4 linked regions of the Homo sapiens genome follow. Each later gene encodes a partner of the first gene's protein in a complex. Each region holds a gene or a part of one and is shown on either strand. Other genes may lie near its edges.

Region 1 (7,337 bases):
GGGTCTTCCTATTTTCTTGAACTCCTGGCCTCAAGCAATCCTCACTTCTCTGCCTCCCAAAGTGCTGGGATTACAGGCATAAGCCACTGCACCCATCTTCTTTGCTCATTTTTTAAATGGGTTATTATTTTTGTTGTTGCTGTTGAATTGCAGGATTCTTTATATTCTGGCTATGAACCCCTTATCAAATATGATTGGCATATATTTTCTCCTATTCTTATAGGTTGCCTTTTCACTTGTCTTTTGCTGTGCAGAAGGTTTTCAGTTTGATATAGTGTCATTTGTCTATTTTTGCTTTTGGTGCTTATACTTTTTGATGTTATATCTGAGAAATCATTGCCAAAACCAATGTTATGAAGCTTTTCCTCTGTGTTTTCTTCTAAGAGTTGTAAATTTTTGGATCTCACACTTAGGTATTTTATCCATTTTGGGTTAATCTTTGTATATGGCATAACTTCACTCTTTTGTATGTGGATATCCAGTTTGCCAGCATCCTTTGTTGAAGAGACTGTCTTCTCCCGATCAAATAATTTTTTTTTTTTTTAGTTTTTTTTATGTGTGCTCCACACCACCCTGCCCCCGAGTAATTTTTATACCTTACTGAAAATCATTTAAGACTGGGCGTGGTGGTTTACACCTATAATCCCAACACTTTGGGAGGCCAAGGCAGGCCAAACACTTCACCTCAGGAGTTTGAGACCGGCTGGGCAGGCAACAAGGCAAAACCTCATCTCTACAAAAAATACAAAAATTAGCCGGGCGTGGTGGTGCATCTCTGTGGTCCCAGCTATTTAGGAGGCTGAGGCAGGAGAATAGCTTGAACCTGGGGGCAGAGGTTGCAGAGAGTCATGATCACACCACTACACTCAAGCCTGGGTGACACAGCAAGACCCTATCTCAAAAATCATTCGACTATATAGATGAAGTTTTATTTCTGGGCTCTCTATTACATTCCATTGGTATTTATGTCTGTATGCCACTACCATACTGTTTTGATTATTATAGATTTATAATAAGTTTTGAAATTTGGACATGTGAGACCTCCAAATTGTTCTTTTTTGAGAGTGTTTGGCTATTTGGAGATTTCTGAAATTCTATATGGATTTTTCTATTTCTACAAATCATGCCGCTGGGATTTTGATAGGGACTGCATTAAATTTATGCTTCACTGTAGGCAGTACTGACATTTTAACAATATTAAGTTTTTTTCTTTGACACGTGGTCTCGCTTTGTCACACAGGCTGGAGTGCAGTGGTGTAATCTGCAACCTCCGCCTCCCAGGTTCAAGCCATTCTCTAGCCTCAGCCTCCGGAGTAGCTGGGATTACAGGTATGCGCCACCACGTCTGGCGAATTTTTGTATTTTTAGTAGAGGTGGGGTTTCACCATGTTGGCCAGGCTCACTTGTCTCAACTCCTGACCTCAAGTGATCTGCCCGCCTAGGCCTCCCGAAGTGCTGGGATTACAGGCACGAGCCACTGCACCTAGCTGAACAATATGAAGTTTTCTAACTCATGAGTATGGTCTGTCTTCCATTTATCTGTGTCTGGTGTACTTTCTTTCAACCATGTTTTGCAGTTTTGTATAAACAAGTCATTTACCTCCCTGGTTAAGTTTATTTGTGTATATTTTATTCTTTTTGATGCTACTATATATATGAAATGTTTTCTTAATTTTTGTTGTTAGTGTATAGCAGTGCAACTGATTTTTCCATGTTGATTCTGTATCCTGTAACTTTGTTGAATTTGTTTATAACTAGTAAGTTTTTTTGTGTGGCATCTTTAGGGATTTCTACACAAGATGTCATCAAAGAACAGAGATAATTTTACTACTTTTCAAAACTGTATTAACTTTTATTTTTCTTGCCTAATTGCTCTGACCAGGACTTGCAGTAGTATATTTGGGAAAAGTGGCAAAAGCAGGCATCCTTGTGTTGCCTTGTCTCACAGGAAAAGCCTTCTGTATTTGAGTGCCTTTATTATGAAAGAGTGTTGGATTTTGGTAAATACTTTTTCTGTATTATGATGATGATGATGATGTGGTATATTCCTTTATCTTGTTAAAGTGGTATGTTTCACTGACTTTTGTATGTTAAGCCATCCATGCATTCCAGAATAAATCTTTTGGCCATGATGTGTAATCCTTTCAATACGCTGTTAAATTCTGCTTCCTAGGGCTCTGTTGATGACTTTTTCATCAATATACTCATCAAGTGGTCTGTAGTTTTCTTTCCTTGCAGTGTCTTTGGTTACTGAATAAGGTAACGCTTGCCTCATAGAATGAGTGTGAAAGTATTCCCTTCTCTTCAATTTTTTGGAAGAGTCTGAGTAGGACTGGTGTTATTTCTTTAAACGCTTAGTAGAATTCACCAATGAGGCCATCTGATTCTAGGTTTTTCTTTTTTGACAAGTTTGTGATTACTGAGTCAATCTCTTTACTAATTATTGGCCCGGCACAGTGGCTCATGCTTGTAATCCCAGCACTTTGGGAGGGCGAAGTGGGCAGATCACCTGAGGTCAGGAGTTCAAGACCAGCCTGGTCAACATGGCAAAACCCTGTCTCTACTAAAAATACAAAAATTAGCTGAGCATGGTGGCGGGCACCTATAATCCCAGCTACTCTGGAGGCTGAGGCAGGAGAATCGCTTGAACCCAGGGGGCAGAGGTTGCAGTAAGCTGAGACTATACCACTGCACTCCAGCTTGGGCAAAGGAGTGAAACTCTGTCTCAAAAGAAGAAAGAAAGAAAAGAAAGAAAGAAGAGAAAGGGAAAAGAAAAGAAGCGGAAGGGGAAAGGAAAGGAAAGGATCGATTGATCTGCTCAGATTTTCTATTTCTTCCTGATTCAGGGTTGGTAGGTTATGAAGATAAATAATTTTCACTACAGCCCTTTCACTTGACTAAGATATTAGAAGCTAGGATCTCACACTAAAATAGAGAGTTAAGTATAGCCACAGCAGAAACAGGAATAAAGCAAAATACTATTAAAAAGAGTTTTTGAAATTAGCAGTTGGACCCAATAAAATCAGGGAGGCTGGGCAGCGTGGCTCACACCTGTAATCCCAGCACTTTGGGAGGCTGAGGTGGGAGGATCACTTGAAATCAGGAGCTCAAGACCAGCCTGGCCAACATGGTGAAACTCTGTCTCTACTAAAAATACAAAAATTAGCCAGGCATGGTGGCGGGCGCCTACAATCCCAGCTACTTGGGAGGCTGAGGCAGGAGAATCGCTTGAACCCGGGAGTCGGAGGTTGCAGTGAACTGACATCATTCCACTGCGCTCCAGCCTGGGCAACAAGAGCAAAACTCCATCTCAAAAAAAAAAAATAATAATAGTAAAATGAAATGAAATGAAATAAAATAGAATAGAATCGAATCCAAGGAATGTAAAAAAATGAATTAAAAAATAAAATCAGGGAAAAGGAGTTCAAAATCACAGTATAGCATTTCTTTGCCATTTATACTTTTAAATCAAAGTAGAGACAATAAATGTACTCTATAGTAAGGAAAGCAAGCTACAGAAGCATACATCTAAACACATTTATGTTTACAGAAAAAAAAATTGTGATTTAGCTGATAATTTTCTGTATGTACATAAACTCTTACCTATTTAGCCCTTCACCCACAGGTGGTTTTTGGTTATCATCTAAGTAGACAACTACTTCTTTCCTCCGGATATGCACAATATCATCCAAATTTAGATTTGTCAAATTCACATCTCCTTCAAAATAGATTGAACCATAACCTATAAATCAGAGCAAATAGTTAAAAATTCATTCTGTATGAAGGCAAATACCTACTTTACAACTATAGTGATTAAACAATCACAAGGAGAAAGCAGTTTTAAGTATTAGTATTTTAAATAATTCAGCAATTCCTAGACTGGTAAGAATGGGGACTTAGGGAGAGTAACTTCAATTACACTGTTATCTGATTTAAAATCTGCATTTTTCTTTTCTTTTCTTTTCTTTTTTTTTTTGGCAAGGTCTTGTTCTGTTGACCAGACTGAAGTGCAGTGGTCCTGTCTCACTGCAGCCTGAACCTCCTAAACTGAAACAATCCTCCCACCTCACCCTCCCAAGTAGCTGAGACTACAAGCACATATCATCAGGCCTGGCTCATTTTCTTTACTTTTGGTAAAGGTGAGGTCTCACTATGTTGCCCAGGCTGGTCTAGAACTCCTGAGCTCAAGTGATCCTCTCACCTCAGCCTCCCAAAGCGCTAGAATTACAGGTGTGAGTCACTGCGACAGGCCTAACATCTGCATTTTTATAAAACTCCCATTAGCCTCAAAACAACCTTCTTAAATCTCTTCCCATTTATCTATAATGACGCTATATAAACAAACCTTCGCACTTGGCCTGGCATATGGGTTAAAATGCCTGAGCTCTTTTTAATACAATATAGCACAGTGGCATTTCCCACAAGAAAATTATCAGTAATAATAACATGAAGTTCATGCTAAGTGTTATACATCTCTTGCCTATTATTCAATTTTCTCAGAAGTTCTTGGTATTTCCAGTATTTTCTTTAATTACAGAAAATTAAAATGACCCAAATAGTTACTAGCACCAAACAGGTATACCTAAGCCCAAAGAATATTATATGGTTCTGTGCTTCTCAGGAGGCTGAGGCAGGAGAAATGCTTGACCCCAGGAGTTGAGATCTGCCAGGCAATGTAGCAAGACCCCATCTCAACAGAAAAAATAAAATAAATAAAAATAAAAAAATTTACATGGTTCCAGTCTTTCTTGTTTTGTTACTTATCAATCAAAGTATTTAAGATTCAGGCCAAGGTGGGCCCAAATGTAGGAAAATGAAGATTCAGCTATCAAAAGCTTCCCCTAATTACAAAAATAAGGTGCAACTCTCTGGCTTAATCACTAAGTGCTAAACTCACACTTACCTTTCCGACCAATAGTGAAATCAGAGACAATGCACTCTCCTTTTTCATTGGTAATTTTAGCAAGGTCATCCATAGATGGAATAGTATAGTAACCAACCTTAGTGAGAATAATACCTGTGACAAAAAAAAAAAAAAAAACAGAAAAAAAAATAACCTGAAATAATCAGCAACTAAATCATCATATAAAGAGAAAATATATCAGAATGAAGAATTTTCCAAACTACTTTTCTACCAAACATGATTCCTAGGAGAAGGGGTGTGTGAGTGTGTGTGTGTGTGTGTGTGTGTGTGTGTGTGAAAAGCTTCATGGTCAAATAGGTTTGAAGAACATACATATGATACATCAAAGAGTCTAAAACTTACAGTAAATAGCCTATTAAACTCTGCTTAACCTCGTGTTTTTCCAGATTTAACCACAGAACATTATTTTCAAAGGACACCCATTAACATCCCGGACTATAAAAGGTATCTCATAAAATACTCTGAGAAAAGCTTAATCAGCTTTTTATTTTATTTTACACACAAGGATACCAAAACCTACAGTGGAAATAACTTGTGTTGGCTTATACTGTAATTTAACAATAGAAGTAGATATAAAACTCCAAACCCAATTCTTCTTGTTTCATTGCCTGTTTTGCATAAACCTCTTTTATTTTTCAAATTTACACTCCCAAATAAAGAGCTAAAAGAAAGATGAAAAATCCAGCCAGGCAAGGTGGCTCATGCCTGTAATCCAAGGACTTTGGGAGGCCGGGGTGAGTAAATCACTTGAGGCCAGGAGTCCAAGACAAGCCTGGCTAACATGGCAAAAATCCATTATCTACCAAAAATACAAAAATTAGCTGGGCATGGTGGCGGGTGCTTGTAATCCCAGCTACTCGGGAGGTTGAGGAAGGAGAATCGCTTGAACCTGGGAGGCAGAGGATGCAGTGAGCTGAGATCACACCACTGCACTCCAGCCTGGGCAACCAAGAGTGAAACTCGGAAGGAAGGGAGGGAGGGAGGAAGGAAGAAAAGAAGAAAGAAAGAATAAATTAAAATAGAAAAAAAAATACCAAAATAAAAAAAGCAGAGCGCTGAAAAACTCAAGGAAAGTAGTGGAACGCTGGTGTGCTTGCTTGCTCTATTCACTCCTTGTCCTACTTGTAGTCAGATATAAGGCTAACTTGCTCTCTGAGAGAAAAGTATTTCAGGCCAACATCAGACCAAACTCCAGCCTCCAGCAACACCCACTTGTATACTTGCTTCTTGGGAAGGGAACTCTAAATTGGGTGGCAGCAAACAAGGTAAATGAAAAAACTAGAATATAAAACTTCCTATTAAAAAGATATATAGTAGCATAATAAATTCATGTAGAGATACATACACAAATACAGATTAAGCACCTGGAATTCTTTTTTTTTTTTTTTTTTTTTTTAGGAGACAGGATCTTGGTCTGTCAACCCAGGCTGGAGTTCAGTGGCATAATCATAGCTCACTGCAACCTTGAATCCTGGGTTCAAGTGATCCTCCCACCTCAGCTTCCGTAGTAGCTGCAACTACAGGTACATGCCACCACACCTGGCTAATTACTTTTAAGTTTATTGTAGATATCAGGTCTTGCTATGTTGCCCAGACTGATTTCAAACTTCTGGGTTCAAACGATCCTCCCACCTAAGCCTGCCAAAGTGCTGAGCCACCACACCCAGGCTACCTGGGATTCTTACTGTCAAAGTATAAACTTCTTTCCTTATGATACTAAGTAACCAAATATATATATATATATAATGGCAATAAGAAAACTAAATATAAATTTTGGAGACACTTCAAGAATACCACAAAACACCCAAAATGGGCTGGGCATGGTGGCTCATGCCTGTAATCCTAGCACTTTGGGAGGCCAAGATAGGAGGATCACTTGAGCCCAGGATTTTGAGACCAGCCCAGGAAACATGGCAAAACAAAAGATGCAAAACTTAACGGGGTGTGGTATCATGTGCCTGTAGTGCCAGCTACTCGGGTGGCTGAGATGAGAGGTCCTGATCCCTGGAGGTTGAGGTTGCAGTGAGCCAAGACTGCGACACTGCACTCCAGCCTGGGCGACAGAGCGACACTGTCTCAAGAAAAAACAAACAAACAAACAAAAAACAATAAGCAATCTATCCGAGTTTACAAAGCCAGGGAAAATATCAGGATAGTCTCTTTGGCTATAAAATTTGGGTTCTTTAGACTACACCAGGATAATTAAAGATGTATCAATTTTCATACTCTAAGGTCCAAAGAGTATGTGAACTCTGAATCAACTAAAGCATAAAACTGTTTAAATATTAAGCTCTCCTATGTGGGATCACATAAAATAATACTTAAAATGCCAAACAGCTGACTTCCATATGTTGAATATCTGCAACAAGCAAGTCATCTCGAATGACTGGTAAGAGATTAAACATGCACCAAT
Region 2 (7,337 bases), on another chromosome or scaffold:
TGCAATCTCCGCCTCCCAGGTTCAAGCAATTCCCTGCCTCAGCCTCCCAAGTAGCTGGGATTACAGGTGTGAGCCACCGCGCCCAGATGAACTTACTGACTTTTATTTGACTGGGAATACACCTCTAAATTAAAAGCGATACAGGCTGTGGCTTTGGTTTCCCAAAGTAGGTCCCAGGAAAAGAACTCTTAATATTTTACTATATAAGTACAAAGGAAGACTCCCTCAAAGTAATTAATCCTAAACTAACTGGAGGCCAGATTTTTGTGTTTTTTTTGAGATGGTGTCTTGCTCTGTCGCCCAGGCCGGAGTGCAGTGGCCGATCTCTGCTCACTGCAAGCTCCGCCTCCTGGGTTCATGCCATTCTCCTGCTTCAGCCTCCCGAGTAGCTGGGACTACAGGAACCTGCCACCACGCCTAGCTAATTTTTTGTGTTTTTAGTAGAGACGGGGGTTTCACCATGTTAGCCAGGATGGTCTCAATCTCCTGACTTCGTGATCCACCCGCCTCGGCCTCCCAAAGTGCTGGGATTACAGGCGTGAGCCAACACGCCTGGTCTGGAGGCCAGATTTTTCAAGTCTTCTGTAAAAGAGTAAGCCCGCAAGGAGAAAATGTGTGAGGATTAATGTCTTGAAACAACTCAGACAGATATTTCATCTTCTTACTTATAAGTTGTAGCTAAATAAAGTGTACTCAGTGGACAGAGTGTAGACCCCTAGAACGGTGAGAGGATGGGATGGGGGGTAGATGATGAGAAATTAATTAATGGGCACAATGTACATTATTTGGGTGATGAATATACTAAAAGCCCAAACTTCACTGCCAGGCAACATATCCATGTAACAAAATTGCACTGGTAATCCTTAAATTTATACAAATTAAACAAAAATAATAGCAAGCTTTATCTACTTTGTAATTAGCTTTCAAACTCTTGATTGCAAACCAAAAGTCAGGAATAAACCTTTTATATTGTGAGCCATCACCTGCACAGCGTATATGTCTATATGATTGAAATCTGTTTTGCAAAATAATACTTGCCTCTGGTAGGTGTAAGGTTCCCTGGTATTTTCTGTTTTATTTTATTTTAAAAGAGAAGTGCTGGTTGCAGCCTGCTAAATTAATTGATGATTAATGGTATACAACTAGCAGTTTGAAAAACACTGCATTTAAGTGTTTTAGAAGTTTGTGCTTTCTGGTTCATTTTATCTCTTTCTGTAGCTGTTAATTCATGCTCCCCTTTTTATACTGTTCTCTACCTGTAGTGTGGTAATCACCATACTTTTAAGTATCTTAGTACTTCTTAATGATCCTTGTTTTGAGCCAGTAGGTCAAGTACTTCATTTCTGATTTCCTTAGCTGCAGAAAAGCATTATGAAACCAAGACTTTGATCTTGTCAGTATAATGCTTGCTCTCTTCTCTTTTCTCTTCTCTCCTCTCTCTTCTCTCCTGTCTTCTCTCTTCTCTCCTCTCCCCTCTCCCCTCTCCCCTCCCTTCTCCCCTCCCCTCTCCCCTCTTGTCTCCCCTCCCCTCTCGTCTCCCGTCTCCTCTGCTCTCCTCTGTTTTCTTTTCTTTATTTATTTTGAAGTGGAGTCTCACTGTTGACCGGGCTGGAGTGCTGTGGCGCAATCTTGGCTCACTGCAACTTCTACCTCCCGGGCTCAAGCAATTCTCCTGCCTCAGCCTCTCAAGCAGCTGAGACTACAGGCACAGACCACCATGCCTGGCTGATTTTTTTTGTATTTTTAGTAGAGATGGGGTTTCGCCATGTTGGCCAGGCTGGTCTTGAACTCCTGACCTCGGGTGATCTGCCCGCCTTGGCCTCCCAAAGTGCTGGGATTCCAAGCGTGAGCTACCACGCCCAGTCTGATGTTTAACTTTATAAACATTGCTTCAACTCTGTAATTCTTCTGTTTTTCTGTTGCCTTCCTTTTTTAAATGCTTGAGTGAATAACACATTTATTCACAAGATTTAAAAATCAAGAAATTGTGACAAGGTTCAATCTCTTCTCTCCATTGTCTCTTTTTCCACCTTCCCTCCCACTTCCAAATGTAACTGTGGTTAGTTTCTTGTAAATCTTTCAAAGTTTCTTTATGCCCATCCAAGGCAAACATACATACCCCTATATATTCTTACTTCCTTTTACCTTGTTAGAAAAGTCTGTATACCGCACTCCCTTTCTGCCCCTTTGATTTTATCAGGGATTATCTTGGACACATCTTTGTTCTTCCTTCTTCGTTTATAGCTGCCTGGATTGCATATGGCATTTTGCATGTCTATGAGTTTATCTTTAAAACAAACTCCAGCTATAGAATTGCAAGGTCAAAGGGTATATGCATTTGTAATTTTCGGTAACTATTGACAGATTGCTCTCTATGAGTTTTGTGTTCATTTATACACCCACCTGCAATGTGTAGCCTGTTACTTCCAGTCTCATCACTAGTACAAACTTTATCAAACTTTATCGCAGCCAGTCTGATAAATGAAAAGTGGCTTGTCAGGATAGTTGTGAGGATTGAGATATCATTCTCATACCGACTAAATATAGGTCACCTTGGATTATGTTTACAGCTGCTGGTAATACTCTTCAAAGTAGGCCCTTTCAAAGTTACTCCTATGTTTCTTTGGCTTTCACAGTGTTTACATTTTGTTTGAGAGGATCAGTACATTGAGTGTCTATGTGGTGTCTTTTATATTTTTGTAGGCTTTGACACATCTTCCTCATCTTCGAACTCAGCAGCCTCCTCATCCTTCAAATTTGGTGTCTCATCATCCTCTTCTGGGCCTTCTCAGACTTTAACAAGCACTGGAAATTTTAAATTTGGAGATCAGGGAGGATTCAAAATAGGTGTGTCATCCGATTCTGGGTCTATAAACCCCATGAGTGAAGGCTTTAAATTTTCTAAACCAATAGGAGATTTTAAATTTGGAGTTTCATCTGAATCTAAGCCCGAAGAAGTTAAAAAAGATAGTAAGAATGATAATTTTAAGTTTGGACTTTCTTCTGGTTTAAGCAACCCAGTTTCTTTAACTCCATTTCAATTTGGGGTATCTAATCTTGGACAGGAAGAAAAGAAAGAGGAACTGCCCAAATCTTCCTCTGCAGGTTTTAGCTTTGGTACAGGTGTTATTAACTCCACCCCTGCTCCTGCTAACACCATAGTGACCTCTGAGAACAAGAGCAGCTTCAACCTTGGAACCATAGAAACCAAGAGTGCTTCAGTGGCTCCTTTCACATGTAAGACATCAGAAGCTAAAAAAGAAGAAATGCCTGCCACCAAAGGAGGATTCTCTTTTGGCAACGTGGAGCCTGCCTCTCTGCCATCTGCCTCAGTGTTTGTTTTGGGAAGGACAGAAGAGAAACAGCAAGAGCCTGTCACTTCTACTTCCCTAGTTTTTGGGAAGAAAGCTGACAATGAAGAGCCAAAGTGTCAACCAGTGTTTTCCTTTGGGAATTCAGAGCAAACCAAAGATGAGAATTCTTCAAAGTCCACATTTAGTTTTAGTATGACAAAACCATCTGAGAAGGAATCTGAACAGCCAGCAAAAGCCACTTTTGCCTTTGGAGCTCAAACTAGTACTACAGCTGGTAAGTATTAACTTTTTATTATTATTATTATTATTTTTTTTTTTACAAGTTGTCGTTTTACAAGTTGCCTTGACAGATGCAGCAAGTCAATTAATGGTTTACACTGAACATAGTTGAGAAATACAGAACTCTTTGGGAAGGAACCTAGGATTTTCAGTTTGAACTGCTCTTTAAAACCCTCATGATTCTGGTGAAGTCATCTGTGGATCTAATTTTGAGAAATACAGCAGTAATGCAAAGCTCAATATAGTGCATATTTATGTGTGTCTTTCTCTTCTGTTTGGGCTTTTATAATCAGAATTGGTATCTACTACCTGGAAAATAAGGATTCTTAGCTTATGAAGTATTTTCTACCATAATCTATGGGAAGGCCTTTATTTACAAATAGTTACAGATAACCAGTCCTCATCAAACATTAAGAAACATAGACAACAAATATAATTAATCCTGAGAAAACAAGAGATTTTGAAAGCTGAAGTCCTGGGGAAAAAAATGACATAGCACCTTAAAGGTTAAAAGCATGATTGTTGGTGGATCCTATTAAAGTCATTCTGTGAGCTGAATAGCAGGAAGAACTTCATAGCTGATAATCAGATTAGTGAACTAGAATTTCCCCAAACTTAGTGCACCAGTACAAAGAGTGATCCAAGTTAGATCCACAAGTTCCTTTGGGATAGGAGTGGCCTAGAAGATAAGAAGTTTTGGGGAAATATCAAAGAAGTGACAGAAGAAAATTTTCTAGATCTAAAGAAAGACATTGGTCTTAAAAATGGAAATTACCTATTGGCAAAGATCACTGAAATTTAGGACACCAAAGCTAAAACCCCAAATGCTTTCAGAGAGAAAAGCTATTTGCCACAAATAGGCAGGTATCAGATTAGCATCATCTTCTAATTTGTAACATCACATGCTAAAAACAACAGTGCCCTTAAAGTGAAAATGTTCTTGAACCTAGAATTCTGTTACTAGCCAAATGTGTTTAAATATAAAGACAATCCGGGTGCCGTAGCTCACACCTATAATCCCAACTAGTCGGGAGGCTGAAGCACAAGAATCTCTTGAACCTGGGAGGCGGAGGTGGCAGTGAGCAGAGATTGGCCCAGTGCACTCCAGCTTGGGCAACAGAACAAGGCTCTGTCTCAAGAAAACCCAACAACAACAAAAAAACACCAACACAAAGGCAAAATACAGATGTTTTTAGATGTGCAAAAAATGCAAAAGTTGAATATCCATGAATACTTTTGAATAATAAATTGGAAACACTCAAAATTAACCTTTAAAAAGTATGGAATTCAACAAATAGCTATGAGCAGTTTTTTGTCTGTTATATATTTACTTAGAAATATAAAGACAAAATCAAAACTAAAATTACATATTATTTGGAAAGCAACAAAAACATGATAGGGTCTAATCAGATTTGATGATGAAAACACCAGGCTATGGTAGACACTCTTAACCATTCTTCCATTAGCCAGGTTGAAAGTAAGCCAACATGTTCCATTTTCTGTAAGTCATACTAATGCCCATAGTGTACTGTGACCAGCCCTGGATAGTGTGCGGTATTGGAACTGAGAGATTATTGGAATAGTTTAGAAAAAAATCTTCAATAAGGTGGCTGGATTCAGAATCACCATATAAAAATCAAAAGTTTTTCTTCAAATCAGCATGTCTCATTTGTTTTTCCTAACATTTCTAACTTGTATTTTATAAAAGCAGCAGAACTTGTAACATGCCAAATAACTAAAAGAACACAAAAGGCATACTTGTTGCTGGGTGAAGGTATTCCCTTCCTCCTCCCATAATTTTAGTTCTTAGGGGAATTTTTGTAGAGCTTGACAAGCTAAACTTATTCTAAAATTCACATGGAAAGGAAACCACACAAGAAATTTTGGGAAGAAGGGCAGGCACACAGGCAGCTTTGTCCTACTAATATCAGTCCATGGTATAAAGTTATAATAATTAAAACAGTCTAGTGATAACAGTAGAGGAAACAAGTATATGCATTTTAGGAAATGTAGTGTGTGATAAAGACAGCATTGCAAATTAGTGCACAAAGGCTGTACTAGTTGATGCTGTGGAGAAACTTGGCTATCCATTTAGATAAATTGAAGTTATGATTTTGCCACATACTGTAATATAAATTGCAAAATAAAACATATAAAAGTACAGCTGTCTTCCACTATCTAAGCTTGCTATTCAACTACAGTATCCAGTTAGATTTGGATTCGAGGTGTATTTTTATTAACCTGAATGCCAAAGGCCTTCCTATGAAAGGCCTAAAATCCATAAGCTATAAAAGAAGATGAATGTATTTGACTTTGTCAAAATCTAATATAAACAGATGTCCATTTGATGAAGTAATCTATATAAAAAATCTATTTTCTAGCGAATTCTAGGGTAGGAAAATTCTAGCAATTGTAGGGTAGGAAAAAGTACTTTCTGAGACTATTCTTAAGGATTTATGTTTGTTTCTTAATTTCTGTCTTACAGATCAAGGTGCAGCAAAGCCAGTTTTTAGTTTCTTGAACAACAGTTCCTCTAGTTCAAGTACACCAGCCACTTCTGCTGGTGGTGGCATATTTGGTAGTTCCACCTCTTCCTCCAATCCACCTGTGGCTACCTTTGTGTTTGGACAGTCCAGCAATCCTGTGAGCAGCTCTGCCTTTGGTAACACTGCTGAATCCAGCACCTCTCAGTCTTTGCTATTTTCTCAAGATAGCAAACTAGCAACCACATCCAGCACAGGTACAGCTGTCACCCCATTTGTCTTTGGTCCAGGAGCCAGCAGTAATAATACTACCACCTCTGGTTTCGGCTTTGGAGCCACAACCACATCTAGCTCTGCAGGTACATTTACAAAAGAAAAAATGCATTGTAATTGGATGGACTTTACTTATTAGTGTGTCAGTTCTTAGCGAATATCATATAGCAGGTTATCACAAAATGGTGGGAATGCCTTTTGGTCATCTATACCAGGGTTGTTTTAATTATTCACTGTATGGAATAATGTACACTCTCTGTGTTCAACTTTAACATATTTACCTCTTGGGAGCAATTTTTCTAATTGTGGTAAGAGTGTAATACTTAATTTTTCTAAGCTTTGTTTTTTGTTTTTGTTTTCTTTCGAGACGGAGTCTTGCTCTGTCACCCAGGCTGGAGTGCAGTGGTGCAATCTCAGCTCACTGCAACCTGCCTCTCCCGAGTTCAAGCAATTCTCCTGCCTCAGCCTCCTGAGTAGCTGGGATTACAGGTGCCCGCCACCACACCCACCTAATTTTTGTATTTTTAGTAGAGATGGGGTTTTACCATGTTGGCCAGGCTCGAATTCCTGACCTCATGATTTGCCCGCCTCGGCCTTTCAAAGTGCTGAGATTACAGGTGTGAGCCACTGTGCCTGGCCCCAAGCTTTGTTTTTAAAATGTTAGGTTGTCAGTAACCAGACACTGGAAGTTGTTTTATTAAACATCAGTCTTTATTATGCAATGTATATATGCACATCATGAGGCAATTTCTGCACACATTAAATTTCTGGTGGGAGATTATTCTGAGATATGTTCCTTTACCAGAAATTGTCGGCTGTAAAGGTGTGGAGTAGTTGTTAATTGCAGTTTTTGTTTATATGAATTTAGTATGTTTCACTAAATAATGGTAGAGAGCGTTGTATTCTCAATCATTATTTAAAACTTGTCTTGATGGAATTTGGTTAGCAAGGTAAGAGTCTGAAACGAAGCTTGACATTTGCTTGTGGG
Region 3 (7,337 bases), on another chromosome or scaffold:
AATGGCTTAGTGGTACAACCAGGATTCTGACCCGAGACCGTTCCCGTCCTTCAGCAGACTAGCTGGCCAGTGAGCCAGCAGAGTACTTAGAGCATCTCAAAAATGAAGGCATCGACAACCCTCCGCTACTGAGGCCCAGGCTCCACACCCACCTGCCCCATGAATGGCCCAGTACCTTTTTTACCCTGAAACTCCCACCCCTGCAATGCAGGCAGCCCCTCACCTGTAAGGTCCGCTCCTGGTGGACACCCACGAAGTCCAGGGCCTCAGGCAGGAAGTTGTAGCGCAGAGTTTTGAGCAGCTGCTCCATCAGGGACATGGACAGGCGGTAGACTCCTGGCCAAGAGGGGGCATCCAGGGACTTCCGAGAGGCACTAGGTGTCTAAGATACAAACAGCAGACAAGCTCAGGAACCCTGCTGAGAGGCAGGACCTCCTTGTAGTACAGCAACTAAGGCAGCCCAGCTGCGCTGAAAGGAAAAGATCTCCCAGAATAGACACAGCCACTGTCTGGCCACCAGGGCCAGAAAGGGGCCAACACCAGCAGATTCAAGGAAAGAGCACCAGGCTGAGACACAAGACCCAGGGTTCCAGACTCAGGTCTGCCACTGACGAGCTATGCGAACCTGGACATGTCACTGCCCTGCTCTGGCCCCTACATACTTCCTCTAAGGGGTAGCTGGGCTAGATGACCAAATACTTCACGACTCTCATGAGAGAGAGAGGTTCAGGTGAAGACTACTCTTTTGAAATTAGGAGGTATCTGTTAAACTAGAAATAACCAAGGGACACAGAGGGCAGGGTGCTGAGGCCCCATCAAGCCCCCAGACCACCCACTTCCCTTCTCCCAGTCCTGGTCTGGTGGTGCAGGGGTGGAGAAGTCACAATGACACACTGTCTTTGGGAATGACAGGAGAGGACAGCTGCCTTGGCTAGAGGCCTGGTCCAGGGATGTGTTATCAATCTGGTTTAGTCTTCCTCACACCTGCAATGGGAAGAATCCATCCCATCTCCCAGAGGTAGTGCACAAAGGCCAGGCGGTGCCTTTTAGTGGTGAGTTTCTCTTGCTAGAGATCCGCCTGGGGGCAGGGAAGATTCCTCACCATCAGTGTATTAGGCAATTTAGAGGAAAGCAACTTCCGGGGAAAGGTAGGGGAGGACACTTTTCAACTGGAACTGTAGGGTGGTCAGGCTGGGCCTCCTGGCAAGCTCCTGACACTCACCTGTGCTGTGCCGTTGGTGCTCAGCTGGTACACACTCAGAAGGGGCAAACAAATGCTCTGGGTGATGCCAGCTCCAGCCACTGCTGTGGCTCCCTGGGAGGAGGGAAAGACAGGAAATGAGATGGAGCCTGCCCCTGCCCTGCCTAGGGTAGGTAGGGCTCTCAGGCTAGATCACAGCTTCTGGGATTGTCAGAACCCACCCAGGCAAGCAAGGACGCTCCCTCCTGCCTTCGGGCTGGCCTCCTACCTGCTGAGTGCGAGCCAGGGTGAGGAGCAGATGCAATGTGGCCTCAGTGAAATGCAGGTTCTGCTTCATGCGAAGGCTCACCTCTAGAGTGGTGAGGAGGGTGGGTAGGATGGGGAGCCTGCGGGTTACCTGCAGCCAGGAGTCACCATCCTCGTCTACCTCACACAGCTCCTTGGCCAGGTGCAGGCCCAGGACACACACCTGCCCAGAGGCAAAGATGAGTAAAAGGGGGAAGAAGAAGAGGAGGAGGAAGAGGACGACAGGCAGCGGTGGGCCTGGTTGCCCAAGACCTGCTTGGTTACACACATTGCTAAGTGAGCTTGAGTAACACAGAATGCACACTCTCTCCCACCCTGCCCCTCTCCTATGTCCAGCTCTCAATGAACAGCAGCAACTCCAGCCAATCTAATGAGCAACCCTAAACTGACCAGAGCTACCCCCGCCTCTTCCCTCCCACCTCCCACACTGCCACCACCCTTGTCAGAGCCACCTCGTCTCATGTTGGACACTCCAACCAACTCTGCCACATGGAGTCTGAGGGACCCCTACGACCCTGCCCGATGCCACCTCCTGCTCTGCTACTGCAACCATCTCCTAAATAATCCTGCTCCATCCTCTCTAATCTATCCTTGTACCAGTGGCCTTTCAACCTTCTTTTTGGCCATGACCCAGAGTCATAAAGACATTTTTTTTGAGATGGAGCCTCGCTCTGTCCCCCAGGCTGGAGTGCAGCGGCGCGATCTCGGCTCACTGCAACCTCCGCTCCTGGGTTCACGCCATCCTCCTGCCTCAGCCTCCCGAGTAGCTGGGACTACAGGTGCCCGCCACCACGCCCGGCTAATTTTTTGTATTTTTCATAGAGACAGGGTTTCACCGTGTTAGCCAGGATGGTCTCCATCTCCTGACCTCATGATCTGCCCGCCTCGGCCTCCCAAAGTGCTGGGATTACAGGCGTTAGCCACCGTGCCCGGCCCATAAAGACTTTTTAGACTGTATCCTCATGTACACGTTTACAGTTTTTCACTAATAATACCTACCCTAATGTCACACAAAGCACAGTGATATTTTCTTAAACACTTTATTCTACTTTATTTTAAAAAAATGCTGGTTGTGGCCAGGCGTGGTGGCTCACGCCTGTAATCCCAGCACTTTGGGAGATCAAGGCGGGCGGATTACGAGGTCAGGAGATCGAGGCCATCCTGGCTAACACAGTGAAACCCCGTCTCTATGAAAAATACAAAAAGTTAGCCGGGCGTGGTGGCAGACACCTGTAGCCCCAGCTACTCGGGTGGCTGAGGTGGGAGAATGGCGTGAATCTGGGAAGCAGAGCTTGCAGTGAGCCAAGATCGCACCACTGCACTCCACCCTGGGCGACAGAGCGAGACTGGTTGTAACAAAATGTGCTAATTTCAAGACTCTCTCTAATAGGTCATGATCCCACAATTTGAAAAATACTATTCAATACTGCATCCAGAGTGATCTTTCTTGGGCACGCCTGTAATCCCAACACTTTGGAAGGCTGAACTGGGAGGATGGCTTGAGGCCTGGAGTTTAAGTCCAGAGTGATCTTTCTAGAGTAAAAATCAGATCAACTTTTTCCCCTGCTTAAAAGCCTTACATCATTTCCTATTTCACTTCGGATCCTGCATTTGCCCGCGGCTACAATCTCTAAGTCATTGCTGAAAAGGCACCTAAGTCCCAGTTCAAGTCAGAAGTGAGACTAAGTTCTCCCTGCACTTCTCTCCTGCAGTACAATGGGCTGCTTCTGCTTTTCTGCAGTGTCTGATCTATTAACCTTTCCCACCAGGCCGTGAACTCCAGAAGTGCAGCGACTATCTGTCTTGATCACTACTTATCCCCAGAGTCAGGCACAGAGCTGGCGGGCAGTGGAAAGGACGGATGGCCTTCTAGGGCACTGTCTCACCCCATCACGCTGGTCCCTGTGCCGGGACCGAGAACAGTCGTCAGTCTCCATGCTGTCCTTGTCCTCTGTGGCACTGCCTAATGCCAGACTGTGGCGGGTCTGGTCGAAGAGTGCAATCACTTCCTCTTGGAGGGTCTCACAGACATTCAGCACCAGCTGGGAGTACTGGGGGATGTCACTTACTGTAGAATAGACAGGGAGGGACACTGTCATGCTCACCAGGCCAACTCTCACTGTACACCAAGGTTTCCTTCCTAGGAAGGGGCTGGAGATGTACTAGGGCGCTAGGAGGGACAGCATCTGTCCAGTGGGAGAGGAGGGAGAGACACATGAGGGAAAAAAATAGCTTTCTTGGGGTAAGAATTCCATGACTGGAAACTCAAAAGTCCCAGAAGAAATGTGTGGCCCTAAGCTGAAGGAAGCCCTGCCTGGCTGTCAGCAGGAGTGGGCAGACTGCAGCTGCTGCTCCCCCTGCCTCTGCCCCTCACCTTTCATCTCCTTCATTTGCAACACTGTGATGAATGCTGAGAACACCTTGGCCTTGGTCTTCTCCATGAGTTGCTGGTCGGCCTGCAGCACTCCCTCCAGGATCTCCGTCAAGGGTCCAAGGATTTCATCCACAGAACCTAACTCTCTAGAAAGAATACTGGGTGGGCCAGGCGTGGTGGCTCATGCCTGTAATCCTAGCACTTTGGGAGGCCAAGGCGGGTGGATCACCTGAGGTCAGGAGTTCGAGACCAGCCTGGCCAACATGGTGAAACCCTGTCTCTACTAAAAATACAAAAATTAGGCATGGTAGCGCGCACCCGTAATCCCAGCTACTAGGGAGGTTGAGGCACGAGAATCACTTGAACCTGGGAGGTGGAGGTTGCAGTGAGCCGAGATCGCGCCACTGCACTCCAGCCTGGGCGACAGAGTGAGACTCCGTCTCAAAAAAAAAAAAAAAAAAGAATACGGGGTGGGGAGTGAGACAAAATACCTCATAAAAGGCCACACACTGCCCCTGCTCCATCTCAGGATATCCACCAGTCTGCCTCACCCTCCTATCTGCTATGTCACTCCCATTCCTCAAGATGGAAAACCAGCCCAGCTTCCACCCACTATTTCTCCCTTTCAGGAAGGCAAGCAGGCACTGACAAGAAGGCTCTGGCCTCGGGCTTGCCTCTCCTGGCACAGCCTCACCTCTTCCACTGCCGGAGGAGGATAAGCAGCAGAGTGCACTTCATGGAGCCAAGGCGAAGGCAGTTCACTGAGGCTGGAACTAGGAGCTGAAAGGAGACAGCACACCAGTCAGAAGTCAGTGGAAAGATTCGCATGCCATCCACAGGGCACCTCCGGCCTCATTGCCTTTCTTCCCCAGCAGTGAGCTCACAGGAGTGGAGTGGAGGGGGAGAAGCCAGGGTTGGCATGGCAGCAGCAGAGCTCTGCTGACCCACTACAGTCTCAGGCCTCCCAGGCCAACGTGAGCCCTGTGACCTGACTATTTGTGCGGCTGGCTGGCAGACTCATGACCTCTGCTATTTGACTTCAAAGACAACCTCCCTGGGAGAAATGTAAAATCTCCCAGACACACTTACTAATGCTTTGGTTCCATCAAGCACGTCAAGAAAGAGCTGGCGACGCACCACAGAGTCAGTCAGGTGCATTATATCTGCCTGCAAAGGAACAGAAAAAGGTTTCAGCTGGGAAAATTTTCCAGATTTTAGAGGCCAAGAAACATGGGGTCCTCTGCTAGGCAATTAGTCATTGGTAAAACAGTCTCCCTGATTTAAAATAGGGCTTATATAGGCCGGGCGTGGTGGCTCATGCCTGTAATCCTAACACTTTGGGAGGCTGAGGTGGGCGGATCACGAGGTCAGGAGATCAAGACCATCCTGGCCAACACGGTGGAACCCTGTCTCTACTAAAAATACAAAAATTAGCCAGGCATGGTGGCGCGCACCTGTAGTCCCAGCTACTCGGGAGGCTGAGGCAGGAGAATTGCTTGAACCCAGGAAGCGGAGGCTGCAGTGAGCCGAGATCGCACCACTGCACTCCAGCCTGGCGACAGAGAGAGACTCCGTCTTAAATAAATAAATAAAATAAAATAGGGCTTATAGTCTGGGCAACATGATGAGACCCTATCTCAACAACAACAAAAAATGTTTAATTAGCTGGGTATGGTGGTGCATGCCTGTAGTCCTAGTTACTTGGGAGGCTGAGGTGGGAAGATCACGTGAGCCCTGGAGGTTGAGGCTGCAGTGAGCCATGATTGCACCACTGCACTCCAACCTGATCAACATAGTGAGATCCTGTTCCCTAAAAAATAAAGTAAAATAGGGCTTGAAGGCCCTGCTGTTCTTCTGTCAACCCTTAGATATGGTCAGAATCAAGCCCAGGTTCACCTCCTCTTTGAGACTCTGTCCTCCCTCTGCTTAGAATCCTTGAAAGGCTTCCCAGTGCCCGGGAAACGCAAACCAAGCTCTTCAACATGGTCCAAAGACCCCACAGGATCTGGTCCAACTGATGTAGTATCAGTCCCATCTGTGCTCACTCTAGTCCAACCCTGCTTGCCTCTTTCATGAACATATCAAGCTCTTTTCCACTGCTGGAACTTTGCACTTGCAAGTCCATCTGCCTAGACTTCTCTCCTCCACGGGCTCCACCTGGAAGGCTTCTTCACACATTCAGCTCTCAGCTGGGACATCACCACTCAGAGAAGGCCACCCTGACTACTTCTATCTCATGTGTTCATTACCACAGCACTTTAATTATTTCCTTCACAGCAAATTATCACTATCTGAAACCATATTTTTTATTGCTAAATTTGTTTATAATTTACCTCCTCCATCATAGGGCACTCTCTATGCGATCAAAGATCTTATCTGCCTTATTCACTGCTGCATCTCAATGCCTGGAAGCGTTCCACTAATGCCATTAAGAGAATGAATGGGTGACCAACATCCTGGACTTAGGTTTCTTTCTCTTTTTTTTTCTTTTCTTTTGTATAGGTAGACAGGTGAGACAGAGAGCCAGATAGGTTTCCTTTGGGGAAAGAGGATGGTGGGATTTTCAGAGCTACAATTCAAGAACTGCTGCCTAACTAGGGCCTAAAAGGCAGGTGACATAAAGGTTATACCCTGGGGAATCAACCATTCTCAAAGACAGGTGAGCCTTTAAGTGTGTTTGGAGCCTTAGGGGTCCAAAACCACCATGCCACAGCAAGAGTAGCCACAAACCTGCCCCTCCTAGGCTCAAAGCTCCAAGCATGTGGGCAGTCTGGCACTAGGCAACAAATTTCACAGATGTAGGAGGTGCTTGGAAAAAGGAGGCATCTATCAAGCTGAAGTTGTTCATGAAGTCAAAAGATTAATCTGGGCCAAGCGTGGTGGCTCACACCTGTAATCCCAGCACTTTGGGAGGCCGAGGTGGGTGGATCACCTGAGGTCAGGAGTTCGAGACCAGCCTGACCAACAAGGTGAAACCCCATCTCTACGAAAAATACAAAAATTAGCTGGGCGTGGTGGCAGGCACCTATAATCCCAGCTACCTGGGAGGCTGAGACAGGAGAATTCCTTGAACCCGGAAGGCGGAGGTTGCAGTAAGCCAAGATCGCACCACTGCATTCCAGCCTGGGTGACGGAGCAAGACTCCGTCTCAAGAAAAAAAAAAAAAAATTAATCTGGATACCCCAAGAAAGAACACTTCAATACCAAGTCCTTATGATACAGCGTGACGGAGTCAAACCACAAAAAAGCCAAGAACAATGCATTTCTTCCAGATGTTATCTCTCTCTCTCAAAACCAACTCCCAGTAGACAGAGTACAGAGACAATGGCCTCTGTTCTTTTTCTAAGACCAGGAAATGCAGTTTCTAGAACCAATGACAAACTGCTTTTTAGAGAGGGTGCTGCTGCAGCTGTCACAGCTCCCTGCTGACTAGTCAACAAGTATTTATTGACCTAG
Region 4 (7,337 bases), on another chromosome or scaffold:
ATTAGCCGGGCCTGGTGGCGGGCGCCTGTAGACCCAGCTACTCAAAGGCTGAGGCAGGAGAATGGCGTGAACCCGGGAGGCGGAGTTTATAGTGAGCCGAGATTGTGCCACTGCACTCCATCCTGGGCAACAGAGCGAGACTCCGTCTCAAAAATATATATATATATATATGTTTCAACCACTTTCAGTATGTTACATATTTATTTATTTTGAGACAGGGTCTCATTCTGTCACCCAGGCTGGAGTGCAGTGGTGCAATCACAGCTCACTGCAGCGCTCAAGTGATCCTCCTGCTTCAGCCTCCCGAGTAGCTGGGACCACAGGTGTGTGCCACCATGTCTGGCGAATTTTAACATTTTTTGTAGAGAATGGAGTCTTGCCATGTTGCCCAGGCTAGTCTCAAACTCCTGGGCTCAAGTGATCCTCCTGCCTTGGTCTCCCAAAGTGCTGGGATTACAGGCGTGAACCACGTGCCCAGTCAGCTTTTAAAATACTAAACAGACTGGTCAGGTAAAACATACTCATTTCTTTGGGGGAGAAGGCAAGAGGGACCCATTTTGCTTGTGAGGGGAGAACTTGTGGCAGCTTACCTCCTGTGCCTGATCCAAAACCAGAGAATCCGCTACTCTGGGTCCCAAAACCAGAAGTCTGTTGGGACAGTGATCCGAAAGTGGGGGCATTCTGACTCGCGAGCGTGCCGAAGGATGTGGTGTTGCTGCTGCTCCCAAACCTGCGCTCCAGTGAGAAACAGACTGAGGTCAGTGGGGCCTCTCACCACTTGCCCATCTGCAAGCCTCAGCCCCCTGCTGTAAGTCCCAATACACACGACACTCATGATCCAGGGTGACAGGCTGGGCCTAACTAGCAGCCTTTCAGAGAGAATGAGCTATCGCCCAGGGCCAACTTTTATCTCTGCTCTAGGAAGAAAAATGGCAGGACTACAGTATGAAATCCAACCTGGCCAGTGTTTTAGTTTCCATCCCCCATTGGAACACCAGGGCATTTGGGAACTATGCAGTACACAGTTCCTGCTCTACCTCCAACAATCCTTAAGCTTTATTCTATCATTTTAGCATTTCTCACTTACCGACCATTCCCCCACATCCTGCTCCCATTTATTTATCTTCAGCTCCTCTTGGGATCTTGATTCTATTTACTTTTTCCAAGTCATTTCATTCAGGATTTTGTATTTGCTTCCTGAATCAATAATTACTACCCAAACCAATGTAAAAGTGGCCACTATTTTCCTTCCCCTGCTCGCCCCACCTGGAGACAATCCCCTGTGCCCCCTCACTCAGTTCTCCCTCCAGATATGGTCCAGCACACAAGGTGGCACTGTGTGACCTATCAGAGCCCCTTGAATTGTTTGCAGAGGAACTCGGCTGGGTTGGGGAGAGCTTCTGGGGTCTGGAGGTGACTAGGTGAGGGAAACGGATCAGTGGTTTCTGGGAGAAGGGGCAGCACCTGGGGGCAAGAATCAACCCCAAAGCAAGAAAAAGTATCTAAAACTCTGCCTTCCCACCATTCTATTCACTTTTAATGGTGAGGTCAAGGCTCTTTCCATACAAAGGTGGCCAAGGGATCTGCTCTCATTGGACTTTCTCCCAGGAGCGGCCTGCTCCCTTCCTCCTCCTGCCTTGGGCCTCATCAGCAACAGCCTGCCCTTCAGGGTCGGAGACAGGCTCATGGCCAGGGACCTGGAAGAAGGTAATGGGCTCTTATGGAGATTTAATAACTGACCTGGCATTAACCTTTTTTAGGACTGACTAACCAGCCAATCGGGATTTGTGTGAGAGCCGCCCCAAGGCAGAATATACTTTTCTACTAGTAAAGAAAACAGCTGGTTTCAAATAAATAAATCAATTCACAAGATACCCAGCCAACCCAAACCTTCTACCAACTCTGTGGTACTGTGTGCTGGTTCATCACTGCAGAGAACAGCATCCATTAAGACCTCTGAGAATACCAGCCTAAGTGGGTCTCTAACTGTCCTTTCAAAGCTTTCCTTAACTTTAATTCTTGGGGTTTCCTGAGGGCAAACCTAAGGCATCAGTCTCCCGTGAAACAGGAGAAGCAGCACGCCAACCCTCTCACTCCTGCTGCTGCGCTCCAGCATCTTGCACGGAGGGGAAGGGTGTGAGTAAGAACATACTATAGTTTATTTTCAAGATAAAGATGCTGTCATCTTGCCAAGACTCAGATCCAAGTATCTCAACAATTCCCCTAGACAAAATCATCTCCCCTCCCCCAAACCTTCAGCTCATGCTGAGCCCAGTACTGCGGCAAGAGGCGTTTTAGAACTCCTTTCAGGCATCGACACCTCCTTTGAACAAGAGACTTGGTAGTCATCCCGTGTACATTTTTTAAATTGGGATGTTGTGGTGTGGTGAAGGTTTTTTTCCCTTGGGGTTTTGGCAACCACACTGAAATTCTGCCCTTAAAAGCGACTCCCTAAAAATGGCCTTTTCCAGTGCAGACGCACACGAGGCAATGAGAGCAGCTTCGAAATCCCTGATCATCCAGGATCTTCCCACGGGAGGACCTGTGCAACTGAATACTCACTCTGGGGGGCTGCAGGGGAGCAGGGGACACAGGGAGTTGTTTGTTCAAGGACAACGGGTCTAACACAGAATAATCCCAAGAGGAAAGAATCTGGTGAAAACCATTCATTGAGGACTTCCTAACAGAAGCTCCACACCGGGGCACCTCTTGGCTACAAAGCAGTAGTTAAGGCAGGGCTGGTGCCTTCCTTTAGCCCCAGCAGGAGAACAGGGGCTCTGATGACCAGCATTTCTCATACCAGGGAACAGCAACACAGCTGAGGTCCACCATGAATTCAACAAAGCCTGGCTTGAACGAAATGAGTCTTACCCTGGAGAGGTACAGGAATCCTTGAGGGAGTTGTTCACAAATTTCAAGGGAGGGGCCTTCACCTCATGGTCAAATTTCTTTTCAGAGCAAGAGTACAGGCCCCTAGTGCTTTTTGGCTGGCGTGTGGGTTCCCAAGGGCCCTCCCCAGGGGGCTTACCCGAATCCTCCTGCGCTGGCAGCTGCAGTGCCCTCTCCGAACACTTTGCCTCCCGTCGAGCCCAGAGGGCTTGTAAAGGCTGGGGCTGAACCGAATGCTGGCACCCCTCCAAACCCAGGGGATCCCCCAAAAGTAGGAGGGCTGCCAAACACTGGAGCAGCACCGAAGCCACCTGAGCAAAACAGAGGCAAACAAACAGAAATAGGGAGAAAGAAAGGAGGAGACAGGAAGAGAAGACATTGAGCAATGAGAAACCAAATCAAAATAGGAAGAAAAAAGGGAAAAGAGGATGTTAGCAATTCAAATGCAAGAACTAGAGTAAAGGGCAACACCCCCCCTCCCCCCCGCCCTTCTATCAAGAAAATAGTAATGAAAACAACAAAACAAAAGCCCTCAAACCAAACCACTCCCCTCCATTCCTAGCAGAGGGCTCTGGGGTCCACTCAGGAGAGCTCCTGCAGACCCTGTGAAGTCACTGTGAAGCCGTGTGAGCAGACCTCCAAGAGCCCACTCGGTGCACCTTCCACCCCTCCCAGGTCCTCTGAGCTGTTTGGAGTGAAAAACCATTCTCAAAAACTCCAATCCCTACCTAGCTGACAAAAGATGACAGACTATATTACTTATCAGTACACAGGCAAGACATCCAGCTTCATAGAAACCCAAATTATAAAATCAGAGGCTCAAAACCTCCTCTCAGGGAGAATCCCTGAATTGGGTCATAGCAGAGACAGAGACGTGTATGCTGGCGCCCAGCCAGGTGCTTTTTATTTATTTACAGCCTGATGGCTCCTACGTCTCTCATCAGAGTCTCCCTTTCTCTCGCTCAGTGGAGGTTTGTTTTTTTTTTTTTAAATGCTTTTTTCCTGCAGTCTGGAATTACTTCCCAATGAAAAAACACACCAAATTTCTTCTTTGGAGGCAGGCTGCTGCATAAATCTAATAAAATAATAAGTCAACAGTGAGGACAGCCCTAGAGTTCAGATGCCTTCTGCAACGTTGCCAACACTGCTGCCCAGTGGGCTCAGGCTGCCAGAGGGCAGCACCACACAGGTGGCCACACAGACAAGGGTCAGGTCACGCACAGGGCACCCTACTCTGATTGCTGGTGATGCCTGTCAGGCAGGAAGACAAAACATCCTCTCCTGAGCTATTCCTGATGCGGGTTCCCAAACTTCCAAGATACTGCTGAAATCATTCTAAAGTATTAGAATAGACACTCAGTGAGTGTCTTCTTGAATGAATGGAATAGAATGGCATAAGAAATGTGCTCTAACTGGGAGCACCCTCTAAAGGGAGTACTTCTTAAGGTGAGTGTTGGCCTATGAACTGCGTGCTAGCGGGAGTAATGGTGGCCTAGCGACAAGCCTTTTCTCCCCTTTCAGAAAGTCAATCTGTTGTTAGAGGGATGAAATCCAGACTTCTTATTGTTTATGTAATCACAACACAAGCTTCTGCCATCTGAATCAGGAAAGATCAAATCCTGGGTATGAAAAGTTGTCAGCTGAATCCCTCAGTTAACTGTTATTTTGTGATTCACTCATGTGCCTATTTGCCATTAACAGTGGTAGGCTGCACAACTGAGAAGATACTTTTTTGCTAAGGCTCGTGTTTGGGTTAACATTCCGCATGTTAAAACACTGAGTGAAATTCCAAGCCATGATAATGGAGACTGTTGGGTTATAAATATAACAGACTGGAAAAAAAAAAGTGCTAAAAAACCCTTACAGTTGAATTATTTAAGACTGATCACAGATCTAGTTACACTTTCTTCCTAGACATGCAGGGCGCTATCTAGTACCTTGTATCAATATTGCTTAGACTTCTTGGTGGAAGGTGAGTGAAAAATGGGAAGTCATGATGATACAGAAAATAAACTGGACAGGGGAGGGGTGGCGGTTAAATATACACAGAGAGAAAAAGCCCCCAAACAACACACCTGGGTCACAGCCAAATTAAACAGGAAGAAAACAGTCACTCTGGCTTAAAGAGGCAACTCTCTCCTGATGGCAGGAGGGGTTTGATTTTATCAGTTGCCGTATTTTCATAAATTTCTTCTCCAGAAGAAACAAATTTTCTAATAATCAATGATGATAAACTTTCTGATTTATTGAGGGCCCACTATATGCCAGGTGCTTCACAGCAGTTTTCTTAAATCTTCCCAATAAGCCTGGGATCCTTACATCACAGGGGAGGAAACTGAGACTTAGAGAATATGCCACTTGTCCCAACTTCAGCCAGCTGATGGGTGCTAGAGCTGGGACTGGAACAAGGTCTGTGCGACTCAAACGCCCACCTCTCATCTTCCCCATCATTCATCCCCTGCCTGCCTCCCTCCAAATCTAACACTTTAGCGAGACAGCAGGGTGTAGACCACTGACCATGGTGGGCAGCAAGGCCATCTTCAGTCCATCCCACCTTCCTCCTGTCCTCTCCCCGGATGACCTCCAGCAGGATAATTTTATAATGCAATTTTACTGAAGGGAGGATAGATACTTTTGGAATTTTTCAAAGACCCATCCAAATCATCAACTTAAAATCTCTCTTAAAGCAAAAAGTGCCCTGATGCCTGGACAGGAAGGCAGTTCCTCTATTCACAGCAGCCCTTCCTTCTGCTCGGGACTTCCAGTCCCCTCTTTCAATAGAAAAAGCTCTCCCAGAACCAATACGAGTTCTGCAGCAGAGAGATGAAGTCCTGAAACATGAGGGGGAGTGGCCTTTCCCCTGCCCTCACTTTGATGTTTATGGTTACTAGTTCACTCATCTTATGTATCTGAAAGATAGTTGTTCTCTATTCGAGGCCTCAATCTAAGTATTAGTTTCATGGGGCAAATAAGTACTTACTATGAAAAGTTGGGGCATACATTTTCTCTAAGACTAGACAAATAAAAGGGTCAGATTTTCTTTCTTTTTTTTGAGACAGAGTCTTGCTTTGTTGCCCAGGATGAAGTGCAGTGGCATAATCTTGGCTCACTGCAATCTCTGCCTCCCAGGCTCAATTGATCCTCCCACCTCAGTCTCCCGAGGAGCTGGGACTACAGGTGTGCACCAACGTGCCTGGCTTATTTTTGCATTATTTTTTTTTGTAGAGACGGGTTTTTGCCATGTTATCCAGGCTGGTTTCAAACTCCTGGACTCAAGTGATCTGTCTTCCTTGGCCTCCCAAAGTGCTGGGATTACAGGCGTGAGCCACTGTACCCAGTGTCTGAATTAGGTGTGATTTTCCTTTTTTCTTTTAGAGATGGGGTCTCACTATGTTGCCCAGGTTGGTCTTGAACTTTTGGGCTCAAGTGATCCTCCCACCTCAGCCTCCCAAACTGCTGGGATTACAGGTGGAATTTTCAAAGGTCAGATTTCCAAATCAATGGGGATATAATCTCAGGATAAAGAACCATATATAGGAAAACCGTTAAGAGTCAAAGAAAACATTATCAGCCTCCTAAAAACATAAAAAGTCTTGATGATCGATGAACTAAAATTCCCCAGTTGAAATGTTCACGATGCACCTTTCTAACTGGGATAAAAGCCTTGTGGCCCTTTCATTTTTAAACAATGCACTGTGTGTGTAGCAAAAAGAAAGCTGTGAAGCCCATTTCAGAATATTCTGTTTTAATTTCTAGGAAAACAGTATTAACAACTAGCAACCAAAGAAAGACTAAGCTACCTGAGTCACAATCTGAGGTAAGGTGCACAGTGGATTTGGAAACCACAGCACTTTAGGCTCTAAATATGAGACTCCATGTATTAATTTGGGGCAGCCTTACTCCCAGGTCAGAGCCACTGATGCATCTAGTCCTGAGGTTAGATCCTTCCTCTGGAATTAGCATATTTCAGAGCATCCCCTGCATACGAGGGCCAAGTGTCCTGCCCACTTACCCAGGGGGAGTTTGCTTTAAAAAGCTGCTTGCTCAAACAGCCCACCCTGGACCACCTGTCTTAAAAAAAACTCTTTTCACACAACTTTCCATCAACAAGGACAGGAGTGCAGACTCTCCGCAGATCTCAGAGACAGAAACAGGGTGGAGAGGCAGATGACAGAAATGAAGTACATGTTTTCAGATCTAAACATACACTGTTCATTAAAAATTTGTAGTTATAAATACATCATACATGATTATAAAAAGGCATATAGTTTATATAAATATATACTTTAATAGTAATGCTGGGATAAAAAGTAGTCCTAGTAATGTTCCTTTTCCTTGGTTACATGGGTGTATTCCAACTGTGATAATTAATTCAGCTGTGTACTTATGTGGATTGTGGATAAACATATACTTCAATTAAAAATAAAGTGATTTGGGGGCTGGGCATG

The links.
Region 2: NUP98 (region 1) and NUP153 share a complex: the UniProt entries of both Homo sapiens proteins name them as parts of the nuclear pore complex.
Region 3: NUP98 (region 1) and NUP188 share a complex: the UniProt entries of both Homo sapiens proteins name them as parts of the nuclear pore complex.
Region 4: NUP98 (region 1) and NUP214 share a complex: the UniProt entries of both Homo sapiens proteins name them as parts of the nuclear pore complex.

Annotation. Positions count from the first base shown.
Region 1 is NC_000011.10:3,715,809-3,723,145, forward strand, and holds part of NUP98 (nuclear pore complex protein Nup98-Nup96 isoform 1 precursor), read right to left. Parts: intron 5,018-7,337; coding exon 4,904-5,017; intron 3,743-4,903; coding exon 3,604-3,742; intron 1-3,603. UniProt on the Homo sapiens protein: Plays a role in the nuclear pore complex (NPC) assembly and/or maintenance. NUP98 and NUP96 are involved in the bidirectional transport across the NPC. May anchor NUP153 and TPR to the NPC.
Region 2 is NC_000006.12:17,624,906-17,632,242, reverse strand, and holds part of NUP153 (nuclear pore complex protein Nup153), read left to right. Parts: intron 1-2,703; coding exon 2,704-3,588; intron 3,589-6,078; coding exon 6,079-6,435; intron 6,436-7,337. UniProt on the Homo sapiens protein: Component of the nuclear pore complex (NPC), a complex required for the trafficking across the nuclear envelope. Functions as a scaffolding element in the nuclear phase of the NPC essential for normal nucleocytoplasmic transport of proteins and mRNAs.
Region 3 is NC_000009.12:128,995,862-129,003,198, reverse strand, and holds part of NUP188 (nucleoporin NUP188), read right to left. Parts: intron 6,336-7,337; exon of another isoform or gene 5,049-6,335; coding exon 4,971-5,048; exon of another isoform or gene 4,662-4,970; coding exon 4,576-4,661; exon of another isoform or gene 4,511-4,575; intron 4,028-4,510; coding exon 3,882-4,027; intron 3,576-3,881; coding exon 3,394-3,575; intron 1,671-3,393; coding exon 1,470-1,670; intron 1,316-1,469; coding exon 1,223-1,315; intron 383-1,222; coding exon 224-382; intron 1-223. UniProt on the Homo sapiens protein: Component of the nuclear pore complex (NPC), a complex required for the trafficking across the nuclear envelope. Required for proper protein transport into the nucleus.
Region 4 is NC_000009.12:131,224,023-131,231,359, reverse strand, and holds part of NUP214 (nuclear pore complex protein Nup214), read right to left. Parts: intron 3,201-7,337; coding exon 3,029-3,200; intron 731-3,028; coding exon 591-730; intron 1-590. UniProt on the Homo sapiens protein: Part of the nuclear pore complex. Has a critical role in nucleocytoplasmic transport.